7 separate regions of the Homo sapiens genome follow, and all the other regions are reported to be linked to region 3. Evidence: microRNA targets listed by miRTarBase, many of them from high-throughput screens and not tested one by one. Region 3 holds a microRNA gene; each other region holds the end of a gene's coding sequence.

The links. The annotated mature microRNA hsa-miR-4310 reads GCAGCAUUCAUGUCCC and lies in region 3 at 2,961-2,976, shown strand. An mRNA with a match to its seed (bases 2 to 7 or 8) in the 3' UTR can be bound and repressed. Matches are read on the target gene's strand: a 7mer-m8 pairs with bases 2 to 8, a 7mer-A1 pairs with bases 2 to 7 and ends in A, and an 8mer does both.
Region 1: miRTarBase lists ZNF623 as a target of hsa-miR-4310. Seed matches in the 3' UTR shown: 7mer-m8 at 911-917.
Region 2: the mRNA of EFNA5 is a reported target of hsa-miR-4310. Seed matches in the 3' UTR shown: 7mer-A1 at 2,066-2,072.
Region 4: the mRNA of ADCY7 is a reported target of hsa-miR-4310. Seed matches in the 3' UTR shown: 8mer at 2,484-2,491, 7mer-m8 at 1,860-1,866 and 7mer-m8 at 1,054-1,060.
Region 5: miRTarBase lists GLP2R as a target of hsa-miR-4310. The part of its 3' UTR that is shown has no 7-base or 8-base seed match.
Region 6: the mRNA of LRIF1 is a reported target of hsa-miR-4310. Seed matches in the 3' UTR shown: 7mer-m8 at 865-871.
Region 7: miRTarBase lists RNF8 as a target of hsa-miR-4310. Seed matches in the 3' UTR shown: 7mer-m8 at 2,132-2,138 and 7mer-m8 at 1,292-1,298.

Annotation. Positions count from the first base shown.
Region 1 is chr8:143,651,110-143,655,203 of GRCh38, forward strand. It overlaps ZNF623 (zinc finger protein 623), which reads left to right. Exons shown (of 2, transcript NM_001261843.2): 2 at 1-2,621. The coding sequence ends at 374. Among named protein-coding and RNA genes, the nearest start is that of ZNF623, 17 kb to the left of the region's middle.
Region 2 is chr5:107,377,931-107,381,930 of GRCh38, reverse strand. EFNA5 (ephrin A5) reads left to right here. Exons shown (of 5, transcript NM_001962.3): 5 at 555-4,000. The coding sequence ends at 676. Among named protein-coding and RNA genes, the nearest start is that of EFNA5, 290 kb to the left of the region's middle.
Region 3 is chr15:41,865,387-41,869,480 of GRCh38, reverse strand. MIR4310 (microRNA 4310) reads left to right here and starts at 2,930; the gene lies at 2,930-2,986. It overlaps SPTBN5 (spectrin beta, non-erythrocytic 5), which reads left to right. Exons shown (of 68, transcript NM_016642.4): 33 at 880-1,083; 34 at 1,263-1,412; 35 at 1,839-1,943; 36 at 2,355-2,522; 37 at 2,988-3,137; 38 at 3,252-3,443; 39 at 3,578-3,673.
Region 4 is chr16:50,315,025-50,319,118 of GRCh38, reverse strand. It overlaps ADCY7 (adenylate cyclase 7), which reads right to left. Exons shown (of 26, transcript NM_001114.5): 25 at 3,981-4,094; 26 at 984-3,760. The coding sequence ends at 3,614. It overlaps BRD7 (bromodomain containing 7), which reads left to right. Exons shown (of 17, transcript NM_013263.5): 17 at 1-3,162. Among named protein-coding and RNA genes, the nearest start is that of MIR6771, 24 kb to the right of the region's middle. RefSeq lists an enhancer at 1-25.
Region 5 is chr17:9,889,467-9,893,553 of GRCh38, reverse strand. It overlaps GLP2R (glucagon like peptide 2 receptor), which reads right to left. Exons shown (of 13, transcript NM_004246.3): 13 at 1,455-4,087. The coding sequence ends at 3,849. Among named protein-coding and RNA genes, the nearest start is that of RCVRN, 14 kb to the left of the region's middle.
Region 6 is chr1:110,944,164-110,948,163 of GRCh38, reverse strand. It overlaps LRIF1 (ligand dependent nuclear receptor interacting factor 1), which reads left to right. Exons shown (of 4, transcript NM_018372.4): 4 at 1-974. The coding sequence ends at 205. Among named protein-coding and RNA genes, the nearest start is that of LRIF1, 18 kb to the left of the region's middle.
Region 7 is chr6:37,389,965-37,394,050 of GRCh38, reverse strand. It overlaps RNF8 (ring finger protein 8), which reads right to left. Exons shown (of 8, transcript NM_003958.4): 8 at 1-3,309. The coding sequence ends at 3,293. Among named protein-coding and RNA genes, the nearest start is that of RNF8, 38 kb to the right of the region's middle.

The DNA.
Region 1 (4,094 bases), not on the chromosome of region 3:
TCCAGAAAGCCCATCTCACTGAGCACCAGAAGATCCACTCTGGGGACAGGCCCTTCGAATGTAAAGACTGTGGGAAAGCCTTCATCCAGAGCTCCAAGCTGCTTCTGCACCAGATTATTCACACTGGAGAAAAGCCCTATGTGTGCAGTTATTGTGGGAAAGGCTTTATTCAGAGGTCAAACTTCCTTCAACACCAGAAAATTCATACTGAAGAGAAGCTCTATGAATGTAGTCAGTATGGGAGAGATTTTAACTCAACTACAAACGTTAAAAATAATCAAAGGGTTCACCAAGAGGGACTCTCCTTGAGTAAGGCCCCCATACATTTGGGTGAGAGGTCTGTAGATAAGGGGGAACACACAGGTAACTTATAAAATAATTACTTTCCCGCCCAGTGAGTGATGTTTGGAAATGCGTGGAATTAGGATTCATGTGGTTTCTAAGATTTGGACATGTCAGAATTTTGTGAGTCATGGATGGGGCTGCTTTTGCAGTGGGTGCCACCTGCCACTGTGCAGCCCTACTCGGCTCAGCCCTTCTCCTCAGCTGTGAGCACTGTCCTCAGGAGAGTCACAGGGCTTGACACCTGACTCTGAGCTGGAACAGTAGGGGCAGGGAGAAGACAGGTCTCAAGAAAAGGTTTTTAAGAAGTTTCATCCCCAGTTAAGCAGAGTCCATCCTTGACTTAAATCCCTTATTACAGCACAACTGTGTATCTAATCTTACGATTTAGGAGAATGTTACCTAGGACATTTTGATGTGTTAAGTTGAAGAAAGGTAACTCGTGTATGAACCCCGAGCCATTTCCCTGTTGTCCTGAGGAGGAACTCCAGGCCTCCCATCGTGTGCCCTAAGGCCTCCTGCGTCCTGGAGCCCTGCCTCCCACTGCCTGACTTCCTGCCACACGGTTAATGCTGCAGCAACACCGACTGCTTCATCTTCCCTGTGCTCCACGTGGCTTCCTACCTCTCTCGCCTTTGTTCTTGTTGAAGGGTCTCTTCTCAGCTAATTAACTCTGAATCATGGTTCAAGACAAGCCTCAGGCATCATGTCAATGGGTGTTTCCCTCAAGCTTAGTTGGCAGCACTCTCCACACTTCTGTGGCTCAGTGATTACTGCTATTACTATATTTACTTGCATATGTCAGAATGATGTGATAGACTATCTCTGTCACTATGCTGTTGGGTTCCTGAGGACAGTGATCATATCTGATTGATTTCCATGTGTCCACTGTCTAGCACAGGGCAATAAAAAATACACCCCTAAATCTATGTGTAATTGGCATCTCTCTTGCTTTGTCCTTTCTATACTGCCATTCTAAAAATTTTCAGCTGTTGGCTGTTTTTTTTGTTGTTTGTTCATTTTGTATCAGTATAATCTACGATTCTGTTAGAAGTATCTTCTCAGCCCTGCTACTGTCTGCTGCTCCTACTTAGAAGTTGCAGGCAATATCCTGTGCACATCCACGCCCTCCTGTGTGCCACCTTACAGCTCATGCAGAACTGTCTACTTGATCTGGAGGGCATTGACACCTGGCTCAGCTGGAACAGTGGGGACAGGAGGAGGCAGGTCTCAAGAGAAGGTCTTTACTTACTTGTCTGTATCTTTCTGTCTCACTCGAAAGGCACAGTCTCAATGCGCTACGTAACTCTTCTGTTGTAGCAGTTCTGAGGTTGAACTGAGCTCTTGTCATTTTCCATGCTCTCTGGCTCATTGTGTCATTTCAAAATGTATTGATATCTATAAGGAATAGTCCTCAATGTTGGGAAAACAGATGAGCAACCCACTACCCTGAAGTCATCCACCGTGTAGTGGGGAAGACGGAGATCACAGTAGGGTGAGTTAAGTATGTGCCCTCAGGTGTGAAGGAGCACAGGTGAGGGGGTGCCTGCTGTGGCACAGAGCTGGGAAGGCCTTACAGAAGAGGTGACATTTCAGCTGGGCCAGAGATCAGTAGAGAGCAGCTGAAGAAGAAAATAGGGTCCAGGAGAGGAATCTGCAGAAACATGGAGCCATGACAGATGGCTTTTTGGCTAGGACTGTTCGAAAGCAGGCGAGGTAAATGGACAGTGGACAGCCGCCTCGCCAAACTGTTAGTCTTTACCTCTGAATTTCATCTGGACATGAACCCCAAAGTCCAGTTTTGTAACGATATAATTTTTTTCTCATGAGGCCATATTTTGAGTTCTTAAATACTACCAACCCTGAACGTCTCAGGACAAATAATTCAAAAAAGAGATCTACATTTTCTGGAAAATCAGCATTACTAGAGATGTTTCAAATGTAGATTTTACCAGACCATTTTAATCAACTTTATTGAGATTCAATTTTCATATAGTAAAACGCCTATTTAAGTGTACAAGGTTTTGAAAAATCTATACACCTGTGTAACCACCACCACCTGTGTAACCACCACCGCCAGAACCAAAAACGTTTCTGTCACCCAAAGAAGTTCCCTTTTGCCTTTTCCTAGTTAAGCCCACTCCAGCCCCAGATAACCACTTTCTATCCTCATAGATTAGTGTTGCTTGGTTTAGAGCCTCATACAAATGGATTCATTTACTATGTGTTCTTTTGCGTCTGATGTCTCACTTTGGCATGTTTTTAGACTCATCCAAGCTGTTTTGTGTTTCAGTAGTTCTCCTTGCTGAATAGTATTCCATTGTGTGGATAAGCCATCATTTGTTTATTCATCCATGTGTTAATGGGTTTCCAGTCTCGGCTCTTAAAACTATGAGCATTTGTGTAAAAGTATGTATTTGCACATGTGTTTTTATTTCTCTTGGGTAAGTACCTAGGACTTTAATTGCTGTGTTGTAAGTGTCTTAGTTCATTCAGGCTGCCATAACAAAATACCATCAACTGGGAGGCTTATAAACAACAGAAATTTATGTTTTACAGTTCTGGAGGCTGGGAAGTCCAAGATGAGGGTGTCAACATTTGGTGTCTAGTGAGGGCCTGCTTCCTTTTAAGTAGATGTCTTTTTACTGTGACTGCACGTGGTGGAAAGGGACTAGCAAGCTTACCCCATTCATGAGGGCTCTCCCCTTGTGATTCTGTCCCCTCCCCAAGACCCCACCTCATATCATCTTATGGGTTAGGAATTTGACATGAATTGTGCAAGGATGTAAACATTCAGTCCATTGCAATACGTGTTTCTAACTTCCTAAGAAATTGTCACACAGCCCTCTGTAGTGGTTGAATCATTTTACACTATTACTACATTATGGGAAGATTCCAGTTGCTCCATATCTTTGCTAACACTTGGCATTGTCAGTCTCTTAAAATTTAATCCACTCTAGCCTCCTTATGATTTTAATTTGTATTTGCCCACTGAATAATGTATGTCTATGATTTCATCTGCTTATTGCTTTTCCGTGTCGTCTTTTGTGATGTGTCTGTTCGTGCCTTTTGCCTGTTTTTAAGTTGGGATGCTTATTGTTGACTCAAGTTCTTTCCATATTCTGCATGAAAAACATACATGTAATATATAGAATTCTTTGTCTCCATTTGTGACAAATATTGTGAATATTTTCATGTTTGGTTTGCCTGTTCATTTTCTTAATGGTGTCTTTTGAATATTTTTTATTAAGCCTAATTTATCAAAGATTTGGGTGTGGTGGCTCATGTCTGTAATCCCAGCACTTTGGGAGGCCAAGGTAGGCAGATCACCTGAGGCCAGAAGTTTGAGACCAGCCTGGCCAACGTGGTGAAACCCCGTCTCTACTAAAAATACAAAAATTATCTGGGCGGGTGGCACACCCCTGTAGTCCCTGCTACTCGGGAGGCTGAGGCAGGAGAATCACTTGAACCCAGGAGGCAGAGGTTGCAGTAAACCAAGATAATAATAATAATGATTTATGATATTTTATAATAATTTGAGTTTAAGAAATTTGCCTACTCAAAGGACATGATTTTTTCCTATGTTTTTTATTTTTATGGAACTTTTATAGTTTTACCTTTTACATTTAAGTCTGTGATCCATTTTGAGTTCATTTTTGTGTACCATATGTGATAAGGGTCAAGATTCACTTTTTTATCTGTGTGGTTGGTTGGTTCGGTTCTATTTGTTGAGACTCTACTTTCCCAATGAC
Region 2 (4,000 bases), not on the chromosome of region 3:
TATAGTTTATCCAAAATGCTGCTGTTTTGGCATTTAGTTTTTCATGTTTGAAAATTCGTCTAGGCATCCAACAACCAGGCATTCAACACTAATCCTATGAAACAGCTAAAAGAAGGGAAATGGGCAGCGCATTCTGGTTAACCACTACTGTGCCAACATAACTGCCCCTTCCCCCACCCCCACCAACATGTCACTTGCTTGCCTGTGACATCTTAGGTTTCAAAGGTACATTCAGATATCTGAAATTTGTGCAAGGCGTGTCTGACTGCTGGCTAACCAAAGCAGCTCACAGGCCAAAGGTTACGGTGTATGCATAATTTTTCCCCTCAATTTTTAAGGAAAGTATTAATATTGCTGAGAAAGTCCAATTTTCTTTGCCTCTTCTTTGTTTGCTGTAAATAATGAGTGATTATGCAGACATGAAAGTCAATGGTGGCACAAGGTTCATTACCCTACTTTGCAGAGGGTGGCGAGGTCTGTTAACAGCAGGCTGCTGCAAGAGAGTTATTAAGGATGTGAAATCTCATTGGAATGTGTGCTTTCTATTTGAACAGATGACACCGTACATGAGTCAGCCGAGCCATCCCGCGGCGAGAACGCGGCACAAACACCAAGGATACCCAGCCGCCTTTTGGCAATCCTACTGTTCCTCCTGGCGATGCTTTTGACATTATAGCACAGTCTCCTCCCATCACTTGTCACAGAAAACATCAGGGTCTTGGAACACCAGAGATCCACCTAACTGCTCATCCTAAGAAGGGACTTGTTATTGGGTTTTGGCAGATGTCAGATTTTTGTTTTCTTTCTTTCAGCCTGAATTCTAAGCAACAACTTCAGGTTGGGGGCCTAAACTTGTTCCTGCCTCCCTCACCCCACCCCGCCCCACCCCCAGCCCTGGCCCTTGGCTTCTCTCACCCCTCCCAAATTAAATGGACTCCAGATGAAAATGCCAAATTGTCATAGTGACACCAGTGGTTCGTCAGCTCCTGTGCATTCTCCTCTAAGAACTCACCTCCGTTAGCGCACTGTGTCAGCGGGCTATGGACAAGGAAGAATAGTGGCAGATGCAGCCAGCGCTGGCTAGGGCTGGGAGGGTTTTGCTCTCCTATGCAATATTTATGCCTTCTCATTCAGAACTGTAAGATGATCGCGCAGGGCATCATGTCACCATGTCAGGTCCGGAGGGGAGGTATTAAGAATAGATACGATATTACACCATTTCCTATAGGAGTATGTAAATGAACAGGCTTCTAAAAGGTTGAGACACTGGTTTTTTTTTTTAATATGACTGTCTTAAAGCATTCTTGACAGCAAAACTTGTGCTCTCTAAAAGAAGCCTTTTTTTTTTTTCTAGGAGGCAGGTTGGGTGTGGAATGCTAATACAGAGCAGGTGTGAAAACAGAGAAAACTACAGGTTTGCTGGGGGTGTGTATGTGTGAGTGCCTCTAATTTTTTTGGTGACTGGGCAGTGCACACCAGATATTTTTTCTTTGAATACAGATCACCATGGTGCTACAACTTTTTTTTTTTTTTTTTTTTTTTTTTTTTTTTTTTTTAAGAAACTCAAAGAGGCATTTTTATGAATAAAGTGACCTTCCCCAAGGCTGACAAGCCAGGGTTGATGAGTGCATAGTGGAATAGCTTTGGATACTCCTCTGGGGGATGACATGTACCAAGGAGAGGACCGCAGTGGCCAGAGGAGACATGATTTGGCTTTGCTGGAGCGCCAGTGTGCTGTGGCCTTTCCCCGCCTCCCACCCTAGTACCCACGTTTTGCTCCACACTCCTTGACCGCAGGGGCTCGGACACAAACCCCTGTCACCAGGAGAGTCAGTCAGCACTACTTGGGAGGGCTAAAGGGAAATTTGGAAATAAAATTCCAAAGTTTGGAGTAAAAAAATTCAAGTGTTGATTTTATATTCTTTCCCTTTCTGACACAGCCTAAAGCGTAGGGGGAACATGTGTTTATCTGTGGGAGATAAACAAGATGGAGTCCCAAAGACTTTAACAAAATATTTTTTTAAAAATCCACTAGAATAGAAAATACATTATTTAGATATACTTTATGCTGAGAGTGAGTATATATGCTTGTCCTATTTAAACTTGTGAGAAAAAGTGGTATCCCTTGATACATTTAGAAATATGGGGGCTATCTTGTTTCATTGTGGGGGTGGGGCAGAAGGAGAATAAATGCAGGATGACCCTGTTGAAGGAATCTTAGCATGGCCAACAGGGGACGTTTCCAGTCGATTACCAGGAAATGCAAGCCTTGGGGTTTCTACTGGTGGTGGGGCTGTCATGAACTTTAAAATCCAAAGCCTAGACAAGGAAAAGTGTTAGACCAATTGAAAAGCAATCCAGCCCTTTTTTTTTTTTTTTTTTTGGCTTTGCACGACATGTCAACAGAAACCATGCCTTTCAATATAAGAAATAAATGTGATGATCATGTAAAATGTGAAAAATTGAAAGCATTCCAGCAAAATAAGAATTTTTTATATATTTGTTTTTTAAGATGTATATGTTAAAAAAAGAGAAGGTCGCATTATGGACAGACTTCGTGAATGGGAATTTGCTTAGAATTGTGAGTAGTTCTGAATTAGAAAAGTATGTGAAGGAAAGGCAGCTGTAAACGTATTGTGCCCTGGAGAGTTGTACACATGTTGAAATGTAATCTGGGCTTACCTGATCCATTTGGAGTGGATGTCACTGCCGAGTCTGTTCTCACATGGAACCATGTGTGTGGGGTTGCCAGCCTCACAGATACAATCAATCCTATTCCCCTCTGACATAAGGAACTCCTCTGGAGTGGCAGAGTCTTATCACAGAAGGCAGCCACCATTTCACCAAAACAAAAGTTCACGGCATTCAATTCCTTTTTCCTTTAGCTATTTATATATGCAGTACTCTCAGTCATATGCAGAAATACTTTTTTTTTTTTAATTAATAGTTACAGGCTTGTTGGTCCAGTGGGATTTGGGTAGGGGGAGAAAGATACCTTCTAAAATGGATCAATAGAACCAAAATAATACAGCATGTTCTATAACCACAAGGAAATCAAATGATCCTGTCATGATTCCAGTTAGTCATAACTATGTTAGCAGTGCTAAATGCATTTTAGAAATGGTGACTTCTGTGGTTTTCCTAGCATTTGTCTCTAACAAATGGTGAAATAATTACTCATGGCCCTCTCTGCCATTGTCTTTCATTTTTTCACAGTGAAATTAGACCCCTTTACTTCACCATTCTGCCACTGCAAATTAAGTATAAAGAAAATAGCAAGAGTGTCCACACCAGTAGACAGTAAGCTTCTCTACCTGTAAGTGATGAAATCATAGCTAATGCACTTGCCATGGAGTTTTCAAGATGATTGGTGTCAGACAGTTTTCACTTTGTTTAAAAAGTGTTGGTGGCCTTTTGTGGTGGTGTTACAATCCTCTGGGGGCTTAGGAGGATGTTGATGCAACTTTTAGAAGCTTTTAATTTCAAAAACAACTCAAAAATCTGAAGGACAGTCATAGCTGCCACTCAGCCCCAGTTAGTCAAACCCCAGTGACCTTTGCCCCTGGTTGCCAAGGGCTTTGCAACATCAAGCAGGGAAATAAGGATCTGTCTGTTTAGTGGATACCGTGTATCCTTTAATAGACCAGGTAACAGTTCGTGTTAGTTTAGACTATTGTTTTGTACTGTACTTTCTTGGGTGGCAGAGGAAAGAAAAGTAAAACATTAAAAAAAAAAAAAAAACTGCGTTCTTTAAATTCTGTATTATTAGCAACCTCTGTTGTACATAGTGTTTGATAATAAAGTATTAATTTGATTCTTATGTCTTTTGTAAGTGAGAACAATAGACTTTCAGGATACAAAACATGCATTGAGGCTTTGAAACATCCAATGTGTACCATGGCTGAAAAAAAGAGTCACAAGTGGCTGAGACACTGCTCCATACAGGACTCATGTGTGGTCATTGCCCACCCAATCTTATGACTCCATCATCTTGGGACCT
Region 3 (4,094 bases):
TGAAGCCACGGGTGGAGAGAGGAGGGCAATATAGAAGCTATGGAAAGTGGAACTGCTGCCCTCATGGAGCCCTGCTTCCTGGGGAGATGAGCCCGAAACCCAGAGAATCAGACTGGGACAGTAGGTCCTGGCCACGGGGTGTCCCCGGCATCCCACTGTCCTGGGACCTGGCAGACCAGGAGGCCCAAACTGACACTGCAAAAAGGCTTGAGTTTAGGGACCTAACTCTGCTGATTTGCTAGCAGTGTGAGCTTGAGCAAGGCACTTAACCCTGGGTTTGTCATGCACTTAGAGTTTACAAGACTCTTTCTGCCATTTACCCTTCCTTCCTCCATGCAATGAGACATTTGGACAAGGGCCTGAAGTCCCTCCAGCACCAATCTTGTATAGTTGTACACAAATCAGCAGAAGACTGTAAGGGTTAAATTAGTAATTCAGAGAACAAGGAGAGCAGTGCAATGTCAAATACCAGGGAAGGCTTTGCCAGGCAAATGCGGCCAAGGGGCCTTTGAAGAGCAGGTGAACTTTCTTTCCCCATCAAGCAGTCTTGATGGGGCTGATCTTGCTAGCCGCCAGTCCTCTCATGGCCTCATCCAGGTGAGCTCTGTAGAGATGGGAAGGCAGGAGGAACAAAGGGCAGAGATGTGTCGTGGTAAGGGTCTGGCTCATGTAGGGGGTTCGTGGTTCTGGGAGGATCGGGTTGGATGAGAACGGAGAAACCAAGTGACAAAGGGCCACATGTGCCTCACCCGAGGCCCTGACCCAGGTCGGCTCGGGCTGTGTGAGTGGACTCAGGTGGGCTGCAGTTGCCTCAGCACCTGGTTTCCTGCTGCCCAGCCCAGCCCTCACCCGGCTCTCCCTCCGTGTCCCCGGGATCAGGTGCGTGACTATGCCTCCTGGGCAGCCCGCGTGCGCCAGGACCTGCAGGTGGAGGAGAGTTCGCAAGAGCCTAGCAGTGGCCCGCTGAAGCTCAGTGCCCACCAGTGGCTCCGGGCGGAGCTGGAGGCCCGGGAGAAGCTGTGGCAGCAGGCCACCCAGCTGGGGCAGCAGGCACTTCTTGCTGCAGGGACACCCACCAAGGAGGTGGGCCCCCTCCCCTGGTGCCCCCACATACCCTAGCTGACCAAGCCTGTGCCTGGCCACCTGGTGCCCCGTCCTACTGTGCCATGCTGGCCTCTCCTCAGGAGCTTCCCTCAGGATCCAGTCCTCACCTCACCCACACCACCCTCCCCAGCTGAGGCTCCTCATGTGTCCATCCCCAGGTCCAGGAAGAGCTTCGAGCCCTGCAGGACCAGCGGGACCAGGTGTATCAGACCTGGGCACGGAAGCAAGAGAGGCTGCAGGCCGAGCAGCAGGAGCAGCTCTTCCTCAGAGAGTGCGGCCGCCTGGAGGAGATCCTCGCGGCCCAGGAGGCAGGTCCCCTCCCGCCCTCACACTCCGCTCAGCCTCCTGCTCCTCCTTTCTATTCTCCTCTCTGCTCAGTCCCTTTCCTCCTGCCTCTCTGGCTTTTTCTCTAATATGAGGCAGCTGTGCACAAGTCCTTCCAGGTGGCCATGGTGAAGTGCTGAGGCCCCTGAGCGTCCACTGACATCCCCAGCCCCTATCCCAGACTGAGCCCCGAGGAAGTTGGCCAGAGGCTGGTCATGCTCCCCACATGGTGCAGAGGTTGAGGTATCGCAGCCTCCCAACCTGGACTCCCACTCCTCACAGCTCCATGCCAAGCTCAGTGGGCACTCCTAAGGCCCTGCCATACCCAGAGTGCCCATGGGCACAGACTGCAGCTGGAGGGGCTGGCTGGCTGGAAGGCTTGGTGGCCTCTGACTTTTCTGTGGATCCAGGTCTCCCTGAAAACCAGTGCCTTGGGGAGCTCGGTGGAAGAGGTAGAGCAGTTGATTCGCAAGCACGAGGTCTTCCTGAAGGTTCTGACTGCCCAGGACAAGAAGGTAATGGAGTCAGGAGGCCTGGGCGTGGTCAGAGTGTGGTGGTTGGGAGAGAGTCCTGAAGGGGGTCACGGGGCGCTTGGTGTGTTCCTGGAGGCAGTGCTGATGAGCCTGCAAGGCTGGGGTCCTGGTTGGGGTTGACTGAGCAAGTTGTATGTGTGGCTCAAGAAGAGGGCCCAGGGGGAGATGGGCCACACTGCAGAGACCCACACGGGGCATTTGGCTCTGTCCACACCGTGTGGTCCTTGGGGAGCAGACTGGTCTGGCTTGTGGCTGGGAGGATCAGATACCCCTCAGCCATGTGGGGCTGAGGAAAGGGCTCCGGGGCCCTCAAAGAAAGGACTGTGAGCCCTGCAGGCCAGGCCCTGCCCCAGCCCAGGGTGGGAGAGCAGCAGCTGTGCCCCTGCCCCACAGGAGGCAGCCCTGCGTGAGCGGCTGAAGACGCTCCGGCGCCCCCGGGTGCGGGACCGGCTTCCCATCCTGCTGCAGCGCCGGATGAGAGTGAAGGAGCTGGCGGAGAGCCGGGGACACGCCCTGCATGCCTCCCTGCTGATGGCCAGCTTCACCCAGGCCGCAACCCAGGTCAGAGGGCACCCCCAGCCCAGGGCCTTCCACTGGAACCACACTCGACAGTTTTCAGCCGCCTTCACACCGCAACACTGTGAGGCGGAAACAGGTTCGGGGGTGGATGGCTTTCCCAGAGGCTGTGCTGGAGCCCAGAACATGGGATCTAAGCCCCTTTGTGTGGAGACCTCACCAGTGTCCCGAGCTCTAGCAGCGCCAGGGCAAGAGAGGTGGGGAAGGGAGCAGAGCAGCCCAGGGCCCCAGGAGTAGGGGCCACACCTCCAAAACGAGAGCCCACCCAAGGCCCTGCCCGGCTGCCTCCTGCAGCAACCTTCCGGAGCTGGAACCTTCAGGGCTCATTTACCAGGTGCTGCCCGCCCCACCCCTGAGGCCAGCCTCCTGGGAATGGCTGGGGGCTAGGCCTGTGGCGTCTGGGGCCTGAGGCTGCAGAACATTGCAGCATTCATGTCCCACCCCCACCAGGCTGAGGACTGGATCCAGGCGTGGGCCCAGCAGCTGAAGGAGCCGGTCCCTCCTGGGGACCTGAGAGATAAGCTGAAGCCCCTGCTGAAACACCAGGCCTTTGAGGCTGAAGTCCAGGCCCATGAGGAGGTCATGACCTCTGTTGCCAAGGTAACAACCGGGCCCTCAGCCCCATGCCTGCCCCAAAGTGTGGCCCAGGGGCAATGTCAGTCTTAGGAGGAAGTGCAGCAGGCAAGATGTCCTGTGTCCCCTCTCTCCCTCCAGAAGGGAGAGGCTCTCCTGGCACAGAGTCACCCTCGAGCCGGAGAGGTCTCCCAGCGGCTGCAGGGCCTGCGGAAGCACTGGGAGGACCTGAGGCAGGCAATGGCCCTCAGGGGCCAGGAGCTGGAGGACAGGCGGAACTTCCTGGAGTTCCTGCAGAGAGTGGACCTTGCAGAGGCCTGGATCCAGGAGAAGGTGTAGCCCCAGCTGGGTGGGGGCTGAGAGATGGGGGGAGGAGCCCTCCCTTGACAGGAGGGATCCCCAGCAGCAGGTGCCAGGAGCCTGGGCTGGTGCTCACAGCGCTCCCTCCCCACCCTCGGCCTTCACAGGAGGTGAAGATGAATGTTGGTGACCTGGGCCAGGACCTGGAGCACTGCCTGCAGCTCCGACGGCGGCTCCGCGAGTTCCGAGGAAACTCGGCCGGGGTAAGAGGGCCTTGCTGGGTAGAGGTTGGCCATGCATCCCGCACTGAAAATCCAACTGAGAGCAGGGAAAGAGTGTGGGCTGTAGAGCAGGGCGTGGGCGCCATGCCTGCTCCTCCTATGCCCTCGGGCAGGCTCCCTCCTCTCACCCGCCTTCACTCCTTCCTCTTTAGAATGGGGGTAGCACCCACCTCAGAGGTAAGAGAGCACGTGTGTGGTGGCAGGTACGTGAATCTCTAGCTGTGATAAAACTGCATAGACCTATCCCCCACTGCCCCGCACAGATGCATACTTGCAAAAACTAATAAAATCTGAATGAGGTCTGGTCTAGTTGGTAGTATTACACCAACGTCAGCTTTGTGGTTTTAATGTTATCATTATATAGGATGCTGCTGTAAGGGAAGCTGGGGAAGGGCACAGGGAC
Region 4 (4,094 bases), not on the chromosome of region 3:
TGTTTTTAATTAAACTTTGGAACAGCGAATTTGGATGTTCCAGAGGTTGGACTTGTATTAGGTAATAAAGCTGGACCTGGGACTCGTGAGGAAGGAATGTGCTTGGGGCTGTTGCCATACCTGTGCAGCATTCTTTCAAAATAGTGCCTTCCAATGCTTCTTCCTTATGTCCCACAGACAGGATCATCACTAAGAAGCGTTCTTAAAACGGCCCCATCCAGTGAGATTTTCCGTTATACGAACATACTTGAAATAATTTTAGAATTTACTACTGTGGTTCTGCCCCTGCATACCCAGTGGGAATGATGCCCTTGTATGGGTAATTAGGCACCTCCCACCCACCCCTGACAAAAGCACACTGGGAGTTTTATAGCACTGTCACATGGCTAGTGTTCTTTTTTGGTTTTTTCCGTTTTTTAAAGAAAGAGGAGTTACTTAGTACTATAGCAAAGTAATAAGCCAAATAAGATAAACTAAGTCATCCTTGAATAGATCAGGGAATTACCAGATTACCAAAAGGTGACATTTCTACTTTACTTACTGTTTATCTGAAATACAAAGGTCAAGTACCCAAGGAGTTGAACTCTAAGTAGGAGACCACAAGATTCATGGCCCCCTTTTATCAGCAAGCTGAGATAAATGGTGATTTTGCTGAATCGGTATAGAACCTGTTATACACAAGGGAAAAAAATCAGGATGGAGATAGATAGATAGATAGCCTTGTTCAGTGAACAAATTAAGTTTGAAGGCCCTTATACAATCCTTCTATAAATCACCCAGGCAGGAAGCCATTTGATTTCTATTATTTTCCTGACTTTGAAAATTAATTAGTATTTAGGAAGAACAAATAGGGTAAAGGAAAATTAATTCCCTCAAAAGACTTAAAATCTTATGCTAAAAGAGTCAAATTTTCAAGTTGTTTGAGTCTACTTTTAATCTCTAGTGAGTTCATGAGGACCACGAAAATAAAATACCTTCAGATATTTGAGTTTTTCAAATTGCTAATTTAATGTATAAAAAGCAGCTAAACACTGGTACTTTATAAAAATGAAACAGCATTTTGAAACAAATGTTACAGATCTATAAATATTCATTATATAGAATAAACCCTAGTTACTTGCATGCACCACCTCAAATCATATTTCTTTACACTGACCTATTATATACACAAAGTATACAGTGGTTAATGATCTTCTCTTCTGTTTGTTTGTTTGTTTGTTTGTTAGGAAATTTCCTCAATAAGCCAGAAAACCTTAGGTATTATTTTCACAAAAGTTAACTCAGGAGAAATTGTAAGGAAGTCCTTGACCCATGGAGAAGGTCACTGTTTGTTTGTTTGTTAGATACGTGTGTCTGTCATAAAACAAAATGACACCAGTAATTACTTGGTAATTTAAAAACAAGTTCATAAAAAGAAAATACCTGCAGGTAATTTTTATGGTCAGTTATATTCTATAACCTGAACACTGAAAACTAAAAACTTTTACTTACAAACTATTATTATCTGAGCACAGCACAGTGCTTTGCTTTAATTGGAAATAAAAATGCATGAGTGAGTGGTAGTCAGTTATTTGTTAAACTCCCAACTGGGGTTTCTGTTGTTACTGAAGAAAAAAACAAATATTCCAAGAGTACAAATATGCTGACCTCAGAGAGGCCCAGTGCACTAATGTGTTTCTATGTTATATTAGCAACAGAAACCTTCCTGACTTGCCAGGAGAGCCCCCGCCGGGCAGCCCTGGTCACTGCTAGATCTTGAGAGCACAGATTTCAGTATAGTATTCATGTGAAACCAGCCCTTCATGTAAAAAGTTTTGGTGTGTAAAAAAGGCAACTTAAGCGAGGCTAATTGCCCTTACCAGCATTGTTGCCATGAAATTCCTTTATACAGCAAGTTCTTCTATTCATACTGATTCCACTTATGTGCAGCACATGAGAGCTGCCACTAGTCTACCCAGCACCTTTGTGCAAATTAGAATACACCTGCCCTTCCTCGGGCTGATAAAGCCACACGACACAGCACAGGCAGACAGGTTCAATTTTCGTTCCCTCCACCGCCACCCCCGCACTTAGCTGTACTCTTAATTTGCAGCCCGGGGCAACTCATCCCAGGACCCCAACAAGTCTGGTCAGTCACCCAATCTGCAACCCTGTATAATCATCTTGTAAAGGCTCCTGTATGCAAGACTTTGTGTAGAACTTTACGGGGTTCATGGGGACACCTAGCTAAGAATCCCTGCTATGTAGGGAAACTGAGTGCATTAGAAATCCTGGCGATGCTCTGGTGATGAGGCCACCGGTTAAGTCTTCCGGTTATGAAGTCCATTCAGAAAAAGTCACGGGCAGTTTGGTCATTTCTCACCCTGTTGTTACAGTTAGGTTGACTTTCAATTCCTTGGGAAGTTGAAGCACAGTAAGACACATCCCCAAAACCTGGCTTTTTGCATTTGCCTTGACTCACGCAGTTTCAGAGCAAGAACGGCTCAGCATTTGTGAGGGGGCGGGCTTCCCAGATCCAGGAGCCTCTGCATGCACCCATGCGGAGTAGATCCTTCTAGTTTTGAAGCTCTCCAGAGTTAGCTGTGAAGACTAAAGGAAAGAAGAGATGCACTCACAGGTTGTCCAAGTTGTCTCTAAACAGACTCCATTCCTTTCTGGTAAGAAAAGTAAGATACAGTTGAAGGACGGCAGGGGAGAACGCAAAGATGTGTGAGTAATCAAGGAAGAGGTGAAAGGCCGCACCTTACTTTCAAAGCACCTCTCTCCAGAATGCTTGCCTCACAAGCTGCCTCATTCAAAGGCAAGGCTCTGCTGCTCCCCGCCTTCTTGCTGTGACCACATTCCTCAGGACTCTATCCCCACAGCCAGCTGACCCCATAAGCTGATGCTAGACAGTAGTCCTCCTTACATGTCAGTGGTTAAAAAGGCAGAGCATACACTGGAGGGAAGAGATTTATGTCTAGTGTCTGAAAAGTCATTCAAAAGGATAAAAACCCCATTAATGTATTCATTTAAAACAAACATGCCAGACAAGGCAAAAAGTAACAGTGTTAATTGTGGTGTTTTTCTCTCTACCTGTTTGAAACCGTTTACAGATGTAAAACACCCCTTTCAGCTTCATTTACCAGAATGCCTCTGTGAGAAATGCTGTCATTGCCAGGCCCACCAGGGAGAGGGAGTCTCCAATCCGTGCTAGACAGCTCAGCTTACTCCCCCTTGGTGTCTAGAAAAACAGACCTCACTTGTGCGTGCCCACAGGCCACTGAGGTGGAAGTCTGTTTTCATCATGTGCTAAAGTTGCCTGCCTGGCACCTCAGGGAACAAAGATCTCAAAGTCAGCCCCGAACCAGTGAACATTCTCCAGCTGGCCTGGAAACTGTTACAGACCAGGCACAGAGCTTCTGGCCTCCCCTGCGCATTATGGCTCAGTGGCTGCTTCGAGCCAGAATCTGGTGCATGTGTCTGAGAAATCCTCCAGTGCAGGTCCAAAGAAGCCAACATGCACAGCCATCTGCATGCCTTTGGGATTGGCGTGGGGCGGAGAGTCTTCTCCTGGGCTTGCTTCAGGGAAGGAGACTGGCTTCCCGGCCTTTTCGGAATCCAGCAGGAGCCCTCAGTTCAGCCCCAGCCCCTGAAACTTGGCAGTGTCCGTACAGACAAAGTAAGTCCTCAGCTCGCCTTTGCCTTTGACGTTGATCAGGCCACGGCATTCACAAGAGTACCCGAGGCCCTGGAGGATGGTGCAGGTCTCCTCGGTAACCTGAAAAGGAAGAGAGACCTGTTGTCTTCAGAGGCGGGAAGAACACCTGTCATGGTAGGGACAGATAGAGACTGCCCAGGCATGCAGTCTGCCTTCCCTGGAGAGTGTGATAGCTAGAACCATGGCTGCTGGGTGAGACAGCAGCTCTTAAGTCCAAGTCCCCTCACCTCTGGGGAAGATCTTTTCCCCTTAGTCAACTGCTTCCCCAATAGGTCTTTACCTGGATTTTCCCAAGTTCTCCAGTGCTTTCCATTCGGCTGGCCACATTGACAGTGTTTCCCCAGATGTCATACTGAGGTTTTCGGGCCCCAATCACTCCAGCAATCACAGGCCC
Region 5 (4,087 bases), not on the chromosome of region 3:
ATTATTCAGCATTTTAAAAAAGGAATTTCTGACACACACTACAAGGTGGATGATCCTTGAGGGCACTATGGGAGTGAAATAAGCTGATCACAAAAGGATACATACTATACAGTTCCACTTATAGCTGATGTATCCAGAATAAGCAAATTCACAGAGACAGGAAGTAGAAGTTGTCAGGGGCTTGGGGAGGAAAGAATGGGAGGCTATTGTTTAATGGATGTAGAGTTTCAGTTCAGGAAGATGAAAGAGTCCTGGAGATGGATGGTGGTGACGGCTGCACAACAGTAAGAAGGTACTTCATGCCACTGAACCATACACTTAATAATGGCTGGCCGGGCGCGGTGGCTCACGCCTGTAATCCCAGCACTTTGGGAGGCCAAGGCGCGTGGATCACCTGGGGTCAGGAGTTTGAGACCAGCCTGACCAATATGGTGAAACCCCATCTCTACTAAAAATACAAAAATTAGCCAGGAGTGGTGGCAGGCGCCTGTAGTCCCAGCTACTCGGGAGGCAGAGGCAGAAGAATTGCCTGAACCTGGGAGGTGGAGGTTGCGGTGAGCCGAGATCACAGCACTGCACTCCAGCCTGGTGACAGAGCAAGACTCTGTCTCAAAAAACAAAAAGAAAAAAAGATGGCTACAATGGTTAATTTTATGTTATATATATTTTGCCACAATTTAAAAAAGATCACTCAGGAACTTATAAAAATCCCAATGCCCAGGTCTAGTAAGACCATTTCAATCAGAACCTCTGGGGTCAGACCCTGTCACTGGTCTTTTAAAAAAGCTTCCCAGGGGGCTGGGCGTGGTGGCTCACACTTGTAATCCCAGCACTCTGGGAGGCCGAGGCAGGCAATCACCTGAGGTCAGGAGTTCAAGACCAGCCTGGCCAACATGGTGAAACCCCGTCTCTACTAAAAATACAAAAAAAATTAGCTGGGCCTGGTGGCTCACGCCTGTAGACCCAGCTCCTCGGGAGGCTAAAGCATGAGAATTGCTTGAACCCGGGAGGTGGAGGTTGCAGTGAGTTGAGATCATGCAACTGCACTCCAGCCTGGGAAACAGAGTGAGACTGGGTCTCAAATAAATAAATATAAATAAAAATAAATAAAAAGCTTCCCAAGGGATTGTAATGCGAGGATTGAGAACCACTAGACTAGATCTTCAAAGCAACAGGCAAGCTGAGTGACCAATGGGGTGGTCTATAAAAGGGGAGACACTCTCCTTCCATTCTTTTGACCTCTGACCTCTGCTTCTGGTCCCGGCCCCTCTGCCCACTCCTCTGGTCCCTAAGACCAAATTTAAGATATTGGAGCACCCAGGTCCCTGGCTAAACGCCACAGCCCTTTTCCTCACTTCTGGCCAGGAATAGTGCATCGCATTCTTCATGGGTGGGAGAGACCTTCAGCTCCAGTGAGAGACAAATGTAAAAGAATCAACAAAATGCAAATGAAATTAAATAAACTTGTTTTAATCATTAGCAGAACAAGAGCAAGCAGTAAGTGTTGATCACCCCATTTGTGGAGTGAGGGGTGGAGGGAGTATTTATAAATGCTTTGAAAAAAAGTTTCTCCTCTTAGCGGTAAGGTCCTGGATCACTTACTCCCAGCAGCATCCGAGGCTCCCGAGAGCCATTTCTGTGCTGTCTCATTCCAGGAATGTGTGTGGAGCACCTGCTCTGAACCGGCACTGTGCTGGGTACTTGCTGGGAATACGAGATGACCCCAGCTTTCTAGGAGCTAATTGGCTGATGAGCCGAGGCAGGGACATTTGCAGAAAGGAGAAAAATAGAAAGACATAGATTTTCATGACTGAGCTATGGATAATCTGGACACCAAAAAATAAACCTTTGCTTCATTACTTGCCTGATGCCTTTGCCTCCATCCCCATCCTAAAACCAGGGCTGGACTATGGGGTGACACAAGTGGGGATCCCATTTCAAGTGCAAAATTTAAGGGGGCCCCAAAAGTCCCCATAGTCAATATAAATAACATTTTAATGCAATTGTCTAAAAATAAAAATTCACATTAAAAGTCCCTCATAGACAACATTTGAAAGTCAGGACCAGAGCCTGCACTTGCAAGAGCTGGCCTCTCCTGCCTCACCCTTATCCTGCCCCTGGCTCCAATCAAATTTCATTTCTATAAATGGCTCATGGGCTGTAGTTTGTTAATTTGTTTTTTTAGAATATTGCATTAAAATATGATTTATTTTGATCATTTACTTTGAGCTTTTTAGAGATGAGTGCCTTGATTATTTCACCCTAGTCCCAGCCCTGTGGCAAAGTATCCTTGAAAACAGAGATGCCAGTAAAAGACAAGATGCATGATTGAATTCCAATCTCAGATTAAATATGCCCATGGGATATACTTATACAAGAAGACTATTTGTCTGAAATTCAAATTTAATTGAGTACCTTGTTTTTGTTTGCTAAATATGGCAGCCCTGCTTGAGGAGTATCAAACTGACTCCCCCGAAGACAAGGTGGTATTTAGTCCCATAGCAACATACCCCACCCACGTACACATGCATTTTACATACCATGAAAGTGACACTCCTGTGCATTAACACACTGTTTCCAAAGGATGTCCATCCCTTGATCTTCCTACAGCCTCTTGCCCTATACTTTCAGTCATTGAGCCTGACCCCAACTGCCTGGGCCCTCCTCAGCCTCCATGGGTCACAGTAGGCAGGAAAGATCCCACAGGCTGGTGGATGCAAAGTCTTGGATCTCTCAGAGCCACCCTGGGCATGTCCAGATCCAGCCAAACTCCTATTGCTTTACCTGGGCCCTCCTGCTTTCAGTATTTATTCCCACTGGGCAAATTGAATTCTGATCAGCAGGGACTCTGGCCATGGAGAGTTATAGGTCAACTTCCTGGGACAACAGGTGTGACAATCAATGCATCAATGGCAAACCAAAAATGGTGGGGACATTCCTTGCCCCAAGAGAATGGTAGTGTAAATCAGGCTGGTAGAAGCCAAACTCAGAAAGGTAGATAGAGCCAGAAAGGAGAGGAACAGACCAAAGACGACATTCAGAGGGTCCCCAGGCACTGGGGCCAATCCTCAAAGGGAGGATCAAGCAGAACTCCTGCTGTGCAGGGACAGAGAACTGAGGCAAAGAGAGAGAGAGGCAAGACTTGATAGGAGAGGAAGAGCAGAGAGGAGTGGCACTCTGGTGGGTGGAGTTACATACTCTCCAAGGAGGGCAGGCACACCCCAGCTGACCTGGGAGAGCAGACTGTCTCTTGCAGCATCCTGCCATGGCCACATGGGGGCGCTTCTAGCTCCCTCTCACCCTGCCCAGTGTTCTCCAAGGGTGGGCTTGCAGCAGAATTACCTGGGATGCTTATTAAACAGCTCCAATTCCTGGCCATGGTCCCAGACTCACTGTCTTAGAATCTTAGCCACAAGTCTAGGATTCTGCATTTTAAAAGCTTCCTAGGAGGTTTTCACGCACCCTAAACCCAACCTCAGATGGAAAGCATGCACCCCAAGGGATAAAGGAAGAGATATTGGCTGGCTTCTCTATAACAGGAGACCTCTCTTCATGGTGGGACTTCATTGGCTTGAATTTAGAGCCAGGCCCTAGGGTCTGGTGGGCATTGTGGAAAACACACTGGTGGGGGTTATTAGGATGAGAAGAGCAGGCAGAGGCTGTGAGCATGACACACAGCCTCTTTCATACAGAGCTTGAAGAACCTTGTGATAGCTTTCATATCAAAGTGGCATGGTGAATGGAACGAGAATGATTCCGTGCCCAGCAACGTGTGTCCTGCTTTGCTTCCTCTTCCTGGGCCCCCTCAAGAGTCCCTGGGAGCAGAGCCAGGGTGGTGGAACTCCACCCTAGATCTCACTCTCTTCCAGAATCTCCTCCATGGTGTTGGCCATGGTGACATCCCCCTCACTGCACTCGGACAGGCTGCTGCCCCGGGGCCAGCGTGCATGGTCCTGTTGGGGCTGGGCGCCCAGCTCCCCAAGACCTCGCATGGCTAGATGTAGGAGCCGCCCACTGTTAAGTGAGGGCTGCAGCTTCCGAAGCTTCTCAGCGCCATCTCCTTCCGAGAGCTTCTTGGGACATTTTC
Region 6 (4,000 bases), not on the chromosome of region 3:
GCAAGAGAAAGGCACTTTGAATTCAAATGCAGCTTATGAACAAAGTCATTTCTTCAATAAAAATTATACCGAAGATATTTTCCCAGTGACACCACCGGAGTTAGAAGAAACCATTCGAGATGAAAAAATAAGAAGACTTAAGCAGGTGCTGAGAGAGAAAGAAGCAGCTCTTGAAGAAATGCGTAAGAAGATGCACCAAAAATAAAATCTCCTGTAAAGACTTCAGTGAAATAGCTGTTTTTTAAAATATACTTCAGCATTAATAAGTTAATTGTAGGTGTGTTCTGAAAGTGTCTTTGAATATGAAGCTTGTTTTTTCATCAGTCGATTGTACAACTTTAAGGAATACAGAAAAGGTTGATTCACATATGACTTGTGAATAATTTACATGGGGTATCTATACCTTTGTCTTAGATACCTTTTTTTGGAAGGATAAATTTTATATTTTTCTATTATTTTAACTAGAATTCTCCAAGTTTGAATATTTGGGCAGGGTTTTTGTTATTGTTTGTATCTTTACCTAAATTGCTCAGGCATTATTCCAGCAGTAGATAGTGACTGTGTATTACTGAAATTTTACAATTCAAGAGAGGAAATCAGCTCCAAACTTAGCTTTTCCAGTGGATTTGTATATGTACTTGCTTTATCTCTTTACCCTTAAAATGATGATACCTTGTATTCACCATTGTTTTTTTTAATGTCGTGAAATAATATGTATTATGGCAACATTATTTAAACATTCAAACATTTCTCAAGAATGAGCAACATTTGTAACTTTACAATGTAATTTTATATAATCCAAAGGTATTTTAGAATTCAGGCCATTTGATGTTTTGTTTGCTTATAGTGATGTGTTCCCAGGCAAATGCTGCTTTTTTTTTTTTTGGGACTATGTACATACGTTACTGAGATTGTGTAAAAAGTAGATCCTGAACAGTTATCACATTTAATATTTCTTAAACTGTAAAAGTGTATTTTCTCTGTCTGGTTAATCTTTGATTTGGGAAAGTTTGGGAATGGTGTAGGGATAGGGATTAAGAGATGGGGAGTTAGCTGAGCGTGGTGGTGTGTTTGTAGTCCCAGCTACTCAGGAGTCTGAGTGGGGAGGACTGCTTGAGCCCAGGAGTTTGAGGCCAGCCTGGGCAGCACAGTGAGACCCTGTCTCTTAAAGGAGGAGGAGGAGAACAATGTTATTAAAAAATGATCAGGCCGGGTGCAGTGGCTCACATCTGTAATCCCAGCACTTTGGGAGGCCGAGGCGGGCGGATCACCTGAGGTCAGGAGTTTGAGACAAGCCTGGCCAACATGGCGAAACCCTGTCTCTACTAAAAATACAAAAATTAGTCGGGCACAGTGGCGGGCACCTGTAATCCTAACTAAGGAGGCTGAGGCAGGAGAATCGCTTGAACCTGGGAGGCAGAAGTTGCAGTGAGCCAAGATTGTGCCACTACTGCACTACAGCCTGGGCGACAGAGCCAGACTCCGTCTCAAAAAAAAAAAAAAAAAAAAAAAGGATCAAATCTCTGGAAGTAAGAGAGGTTAAAGAAAAAAAAAATCTGTGCAATGGCAACAAAAGAGTAAATCAGAAAATACTGTAAAGAAGTGAAATACACAGATCAGCTAGATTTTGCTGCTTTCTATTAACAGCTGTTTTGCAATATAATTCATGTACTGTAAAATCCAGCTTTTTAAAGTACACAGTTCTCTGGTTTTTAATATGTTTACAGAGTTGTACAACCATCAACACTATAATTTTAGAACATTTTCAAAATGTTCAAAACATCCCCCAAACAAACCTTATACCCATTAGCAGTCATTCCCCATCACCTCTCCTTATGCCATAGGCAAGCACTAAAAAGCTTTCTGTCTTTATGGAATTGCCTGTTGTGAACATTTCATATATATGGAATCATACAATATGTTTTTCTTTGTGATTGGTGTTTTTTTACTTAGTCTAATGTTTTCAAGGTTTATCCATGTTGTAGCATTTATCAGCACTTCATTATTTATTGCTGAATAATATTCCATCATGGATATACCACATTTTATCCATTCGTTATGAATATTTGGATTGTTTCCACTTTTGGCAGCTACAAGTAATGTTGCTGTGTATATTTGTGTACAAGGTTTTTTAATGGGTATATATTTTCAGTTCTCTTGGGTATATACCTAGGACTGTAATTGCTGGGTCATACAATAACTGTGTTTAACTATGTTTTGAGGAACTGCCAAACTATTTCAGTCAGGTTTTGCTCTCCCCACACCACATAAACATACTGTCAAGGTCACCAGTGACTTCCATATTACTAGATTCAGTAGTCAATTGTCAGTCTTCTTGATTTATCAGCAGAATGTAATTTCATGAATCATCACTTCCTTTGAAAAATGTTGAAACATTCTGTCATAGAAACAGTGCAAATGTATTGTAGAAAATATAGGCCAGGCGCAGTGGCTCACACCTGTAATCCCAGCACTTTGGGAAGCCGAGGTGGGCAGATCACCTGAGGTAAGGAGTTTGAGACCAGTCTGACCAACACTGGTGAAACCCCGTCTCTACTAAAAGTAGAAAAATTAGCTGGGCATGGTTGTGCATGCCTGTAATCTCGGCTACTGGGAATGCTGGGGCAGGAGAATTGCTTGAACCCGGGAGGTGGAGGTTGCAGTGAGTGGAGATGGTGCCACTGCACTCCAGCCTGGGCAACAGAATGAGACTCCGTCTCAAAGGAAGGAGAGAGGGAGGGAGGGAGGGGAAAGAGGAACGGAAGAAGGAAGAGGGGGAGGGAAGGGCAAGTGAAATATTAAAAATTGAAAATATAGCAAGCAAAATATTAAAAACTAGAACTTCATATTCCCATCCAAAGTTTACCACTAATACCTTATATATCCTTTCTGATCATTCTGTGTGCGTCATACATACATATATTTTTGATCAAAATGAGGTCCTTATTTACACTATTCTGAATCCTGCTTTTAAAGTCAAGAATTGGCCTGGCATACTCATACCTGTAATCCTTACACTTTGGAAGTCTGAGGCAGGAGGATCACTTGAGGCCAGGAGTTCGGCTGGGCAATGGCAATAGACCCCATCTTTGCCAAAAATTTAGCCAGGTGTGGTGGCATGTGCCTGTAGTCCCAGCTACTTGGGAGGCTGAGGTGGAAAGATCACTTGAGCCTAGTGGGTCAAGGTCGTAGTGAACTGTGAACATGCCACTGCATTCCAGTCTGGTTGACAGAGTGAGAACATACCTTTAAAAAAAAAAAAAAAAACAGCAACCTTGAGCTTTCCCTTTCAGTGTTTTCATCTCTAATACTAAAGCTAAATTTACCAATTTGGCCTCAAAACGTTTTTTACCACTGGTTTTTCTAAAGCAGTATTAAATCTAGGTCTATGTGTCTTATCTAGCTGTTATACCCTGTAGAGCTTTTAAGTGAGTGGTTTTGTTTTTAAAATTTTTAATGACATTGATTTAGAGACCAGCTATTTGTCCTGACTCCTTTTCTCCTTGATATACTTTCATTTCACTTCTGAAAGACCACACTTCTGCCTCATTGACTAGTCATTCTCAGTCTCCTTGCTGATCCCTTCCTTCTCCCTAATCTCTTTACATTAAAACACCTGAGGACTCAGTCCACGGTTTGCCTCTTTGCTTATACTCACTCTCTTGGTGATCTCATCCAGTTTCATGGCTTTAAGTACTATCAATGTACTGCCAACTTGCAGTTTTTATCTTTTATTTCCAGGCTTTCTTGAATTCCAGCTGCCTATTTAATATCTCTATTGGATGTCTAAATAGACATCTCAAACCTATGTTCAAGACAGAAATCTTGCTCTTCCCTCAAACTAGCTGCACCCACAGGTTTTCTCATTTCAGCTGATGACAACCGCATCCTACCAGTTGCTCAGGCAAAATCTTGAAGTCATGCTTTACTCCTTGCTCTCACACCTCACACCCAATACAAATTTTGTTGGTTCTGCTTTCAAAATACTCCAAATATGACC
Region 7 (4,086 bases), not on the chromosome of region 3:
TAGGGGGTTCAGTGTCGAGATAAACATACCTAGGACACCCCATGTTTCTGGGTTATCCTTAGATACGATGAGGTGGAGAGATTCCAGTCACAGAGAGAGGCTGTAAAGAGCAAGCAGGCAGTTGGAGAGAGCTACCAATCCCAGACACTCCAGCAGTTATGGTGACTGCCTGGATGGTCACTCACAGAGGAGGAAAAAGTAGTGAGAGAACTGGAGACAAGGGGGAAATGCAGGTCTTTCTGTACAACAGCAGCTTCCAATCAGAGAAACAGATGATGGGTATCCAGCTATGCAATCCACAAAGGACAAAGTCCCCTGCTTTGGCACAGTCTGATTGTTGGGATGAAACATGCCTAGAGGTAGAGTGAGCCCTTTCTAGGTTAACATAACCAGATATGGGACACCTGCCATTCACTGCAAAGTGCTTCATATAGCTGGCTGCATTCATCTGCTTAATAAAACCAGATAATGAAACAAACCCCCTTTTCCAGTTCCCCAGAGCCCTGCTGTAAAGAAGGTGCCTTTAATTAGAGTCAGACTGCACAGCACTGGGGCTCAGCTGTACTATAGTTTGATGCTGCAAGGCAGAAAAGTTACCGTGTATTTTCTAGGCAAGTAAAATGCAGATGATGTTTAATATCAGATATCTCTCCAAGGAAAGAACATTCTGTAGCTCAGACAAATAATGCAAGTTTGGGTTAATTTTTGGTTTGTCTTTTAAACATAGTACATTCAGGCTTTTGTTTGTGATCAGGGCAATAATGACAGATATAATTACTTAGAGATGAAGAAACCAAAACCAAGACACAAGGAGGCTGAGTAACTTGCCCAAGGCTCACACAGTTACTAACAGCAGGGCCAAGATTCAAACTCCGCTAGTCTGGCTTTTAATGTTGTTGTATTGATTTATTACTCTTTTTAGTCTGTCTTTAAGAGCTCACTTTCCTAGATGTTGTGGAACACTTGAGAGGGATGTGGTACTCTGAAAGGAGGGGCTGCAAATCACTCTATGTCCAGCAGCTGTGGGATGGAATGGTCAGTCTGTGAGGTCAGTCTCTGTACATAGTCTTCAGGCTCAAGTCAAGATGTCTCTTCTTGGCCAGGTGCAATGGCTCATGCCTGTAATCTCAGCACTTTGGGAGGCCAAGGTGGTAGGATTGCTTTAGCCCAGAATTTCAAGACCAGCCTAGGCAACATAGTCTCTATTAAAAAATAATAAAATAATTTTTAAAAAGGTATTTCTTTTTAAAATATCTTCTCTCTAAAGATATATGTACAAGGGTGTTAACTGCAGCATTGTTTTAAGAGTAAAAAGGTTTGAACCAACCTAGATTTCTATCAAAAGTAAGCCAGAAAAGTAAATGATGGTGCAAATACACAATGAAAAAACAGGCAGCTGTAATAAAGAAAGGAAACTATGTACTGACATGGAACTGTTGCCAACATATATCTGAAAAAAGCAAGGTTCAGAATAGCGTACAGTTTACCATTTGTGCAAAGCAAGGAAAAAGACCACATGTGTTTTTGCTTGTATAGACAGAGATCTCTGGAAGAATATACAAGCAACTGTAATACTTGTTGCCTCTGAGTGGGAAGTAGTCGCTGTGGGGAAAGGGTGAGAGGCATTTCATTCTACGCCATTTTGTACCTTTAATTTCAAACTATGTGAACATATTGCCTACTCAAAAAGTGTATGTCTGTACTCTCTTAAAAATGAATTACAATATGTAAACTAAACACAGAACATATAAAAATTGACATATACCCATGCAATCTATAAACAAAACACATGTATGGGGAAACAAGAAGTTATTAAATCAAGGTGGTAACAATCTTTTCCTTTTGTTCTCTATTTTTCCAGAATTCTTATGATGTGGTTATAGTAAGTACTTTTAAAGCATTTTTTCCACATTTAACTTACTTCCTCCATGACTCTACCAGTATTTTGATCAGTAATCATGGGCAGAAGAATGGAAATGAAGACTAAGGACTCCAGAATCCCAAAATTCACAGTATATTCAACAAAGAAAAAATCCCTACCATCCTTAAAAAGTTGGCAATCAATAGTTTCCAACCCTTTATGAAAATACATGGGGTATAGGCTGGGCGTGGTGGCTCACGCCTGTAATCCCAGCATTTTAGAGGCCTAGGCAGGTGGATCACTTAAGGTCAGGAATTTGAGACCAGCCTGGCCAACATGGTGAAACCCTGTCTCTACAGAAAAACAAAAATTAGCTGGGTGTGATGGCATATGCCTGTAGTCCCAGCTACTTGGGAGGTTGAGGTGGGAGGATGGCTTGAGTCTGGGAGGTGGAGGTTGCAGTGAGCTGAGATTGCACTACTGTACTCCAGCTTGGGCAACAGAGTCAGATCTTGTTTCAAAAATTAAAATTAAAATTAAAAATAAAGGAGAGGTGGAGAAAAGAGAGAAAACTTCTAATGTAAAAGAAAAATAAAGAAAAAAGCACATCAAGTTGTCATAAAATCATTGCCTGTGTGTTCATGACGTCAGATAAAATAGATTTGGAAACATTCAAATGCCAGCTGAAGGAAAGGAGTTTCTCCCACCCCTGAAACAAGGTAAACAGTGACCCACCTCTGTAATAAAAAGGAAACACGACAGTCAGGAGGTTAACAGAGCTCATCTGTTGCCACGATCTGCAGCTTGGCCTCTTAGGCTGACATTCACTTGAAGTCTATCATCTGATACAGTCACTTTCTTGGTTGTAATCTATGAGCTGCTGGTGTTTACTTGTGAGACTGTCTGGGAGCAGGAAGGGAAGGAAGGTAAATACACCAAAGCCCAGCTGAGCAACTGACAGGTTTTACATTTTATTTCCAGGAAATGAGATAGTATTTTCACAAAGAAGAGGTAAGCCATCCTCTCAAAATAGACACTGCCTTCAGAGGCAGCCATGGGGTACACCCAACCTATCCAAAACAACTGTCAACGGAGGTGTTTCCGAGGTATCAAAACAGTAACAACAACAACAAATTAAAAAAAAACAGAAGAGAACTCAAATAACTCTTTCGACATGTAGTGAGGCAGAGTCTACGAAGTACCCTGAAGCAGTTGGGTGCCGTGAATCCTGGTGGTGCTTCAGCCAATGATGGCAGCAGGGCTGGCCACCGTGGAAGGCAAGTGACTGAGGGCTTCCTAACTCAAGTCTCTGTCCCACAAGACTTCTCAGTTGACCTTCAGAGCAGCGGAGTCACGGCTAGAGAGAATCCTCCAGACCATCTCAGGCTCGCACTACCTGGCAGTCTTTCAAATGCCCTTAGAGCACGGTCTTCAGAACAATCTCTTTGCTTTGGAGAAAAAGAAGAGAAATAAATAAATGAGGAGCCTGTATTTCCCTTCCGTGGACTCCCTGCTTCCAGCCTCGCCACCCTGTCTCTTCCTCACACAGCAGCCATAGCGAACTGAGAAAACAGAAGTCAGATCATGTCACTCTCTGCTCAAAGCCCACTCCTCATTCCTCTCACAGTGAGTTAAAGTCAAAGTCCTTTCAAAGGCCTACAAGGCCCTACAAAATCTGCGTCTTGCTCAAGCTTCCTCTCCTACCCACTCCCCAGCGCTCACTCCACTCCCCAGCACTAGCCTCCTTGCTGCCCCTCCCACATACCAGCATGCTCCCCCTTACCATTCCCTCTTTCCCTACATGGCAGCATGGCCACCTCCTTCAGAGCTTCCCTCAAATAGTTCCTGCTCAGAGGTGCCTTCCTTGATTACCCTATCAAGAATTGCCAAGGCTTTCACCATCACCCCTTCTCCCCTTCTTGCTTGATTTTTCTCCATAGCATTAATTACATCTAACTTAGATTTTCACTTTTTACATTCTCAGCATCTAGAACAGTGCCTAGCACAAATCTGGCCCTCAATATATCTGTTAAAGATGTTAAAGAAAGGAATGAATTATATACAGGAATAGGCAGGGAGAGGCGGGAATTCTTCCTGTGTTCAGAGAGGGAGGGGACAAGAAAGGCTGTTTACTTACTAGCCTCCAGGCTTTTCCAATAGTCCGCTTCCTTGTGGGAATCCTGGCCTATGCCAAAGGCACAATAAAGTCACCAACCAAATTGTCC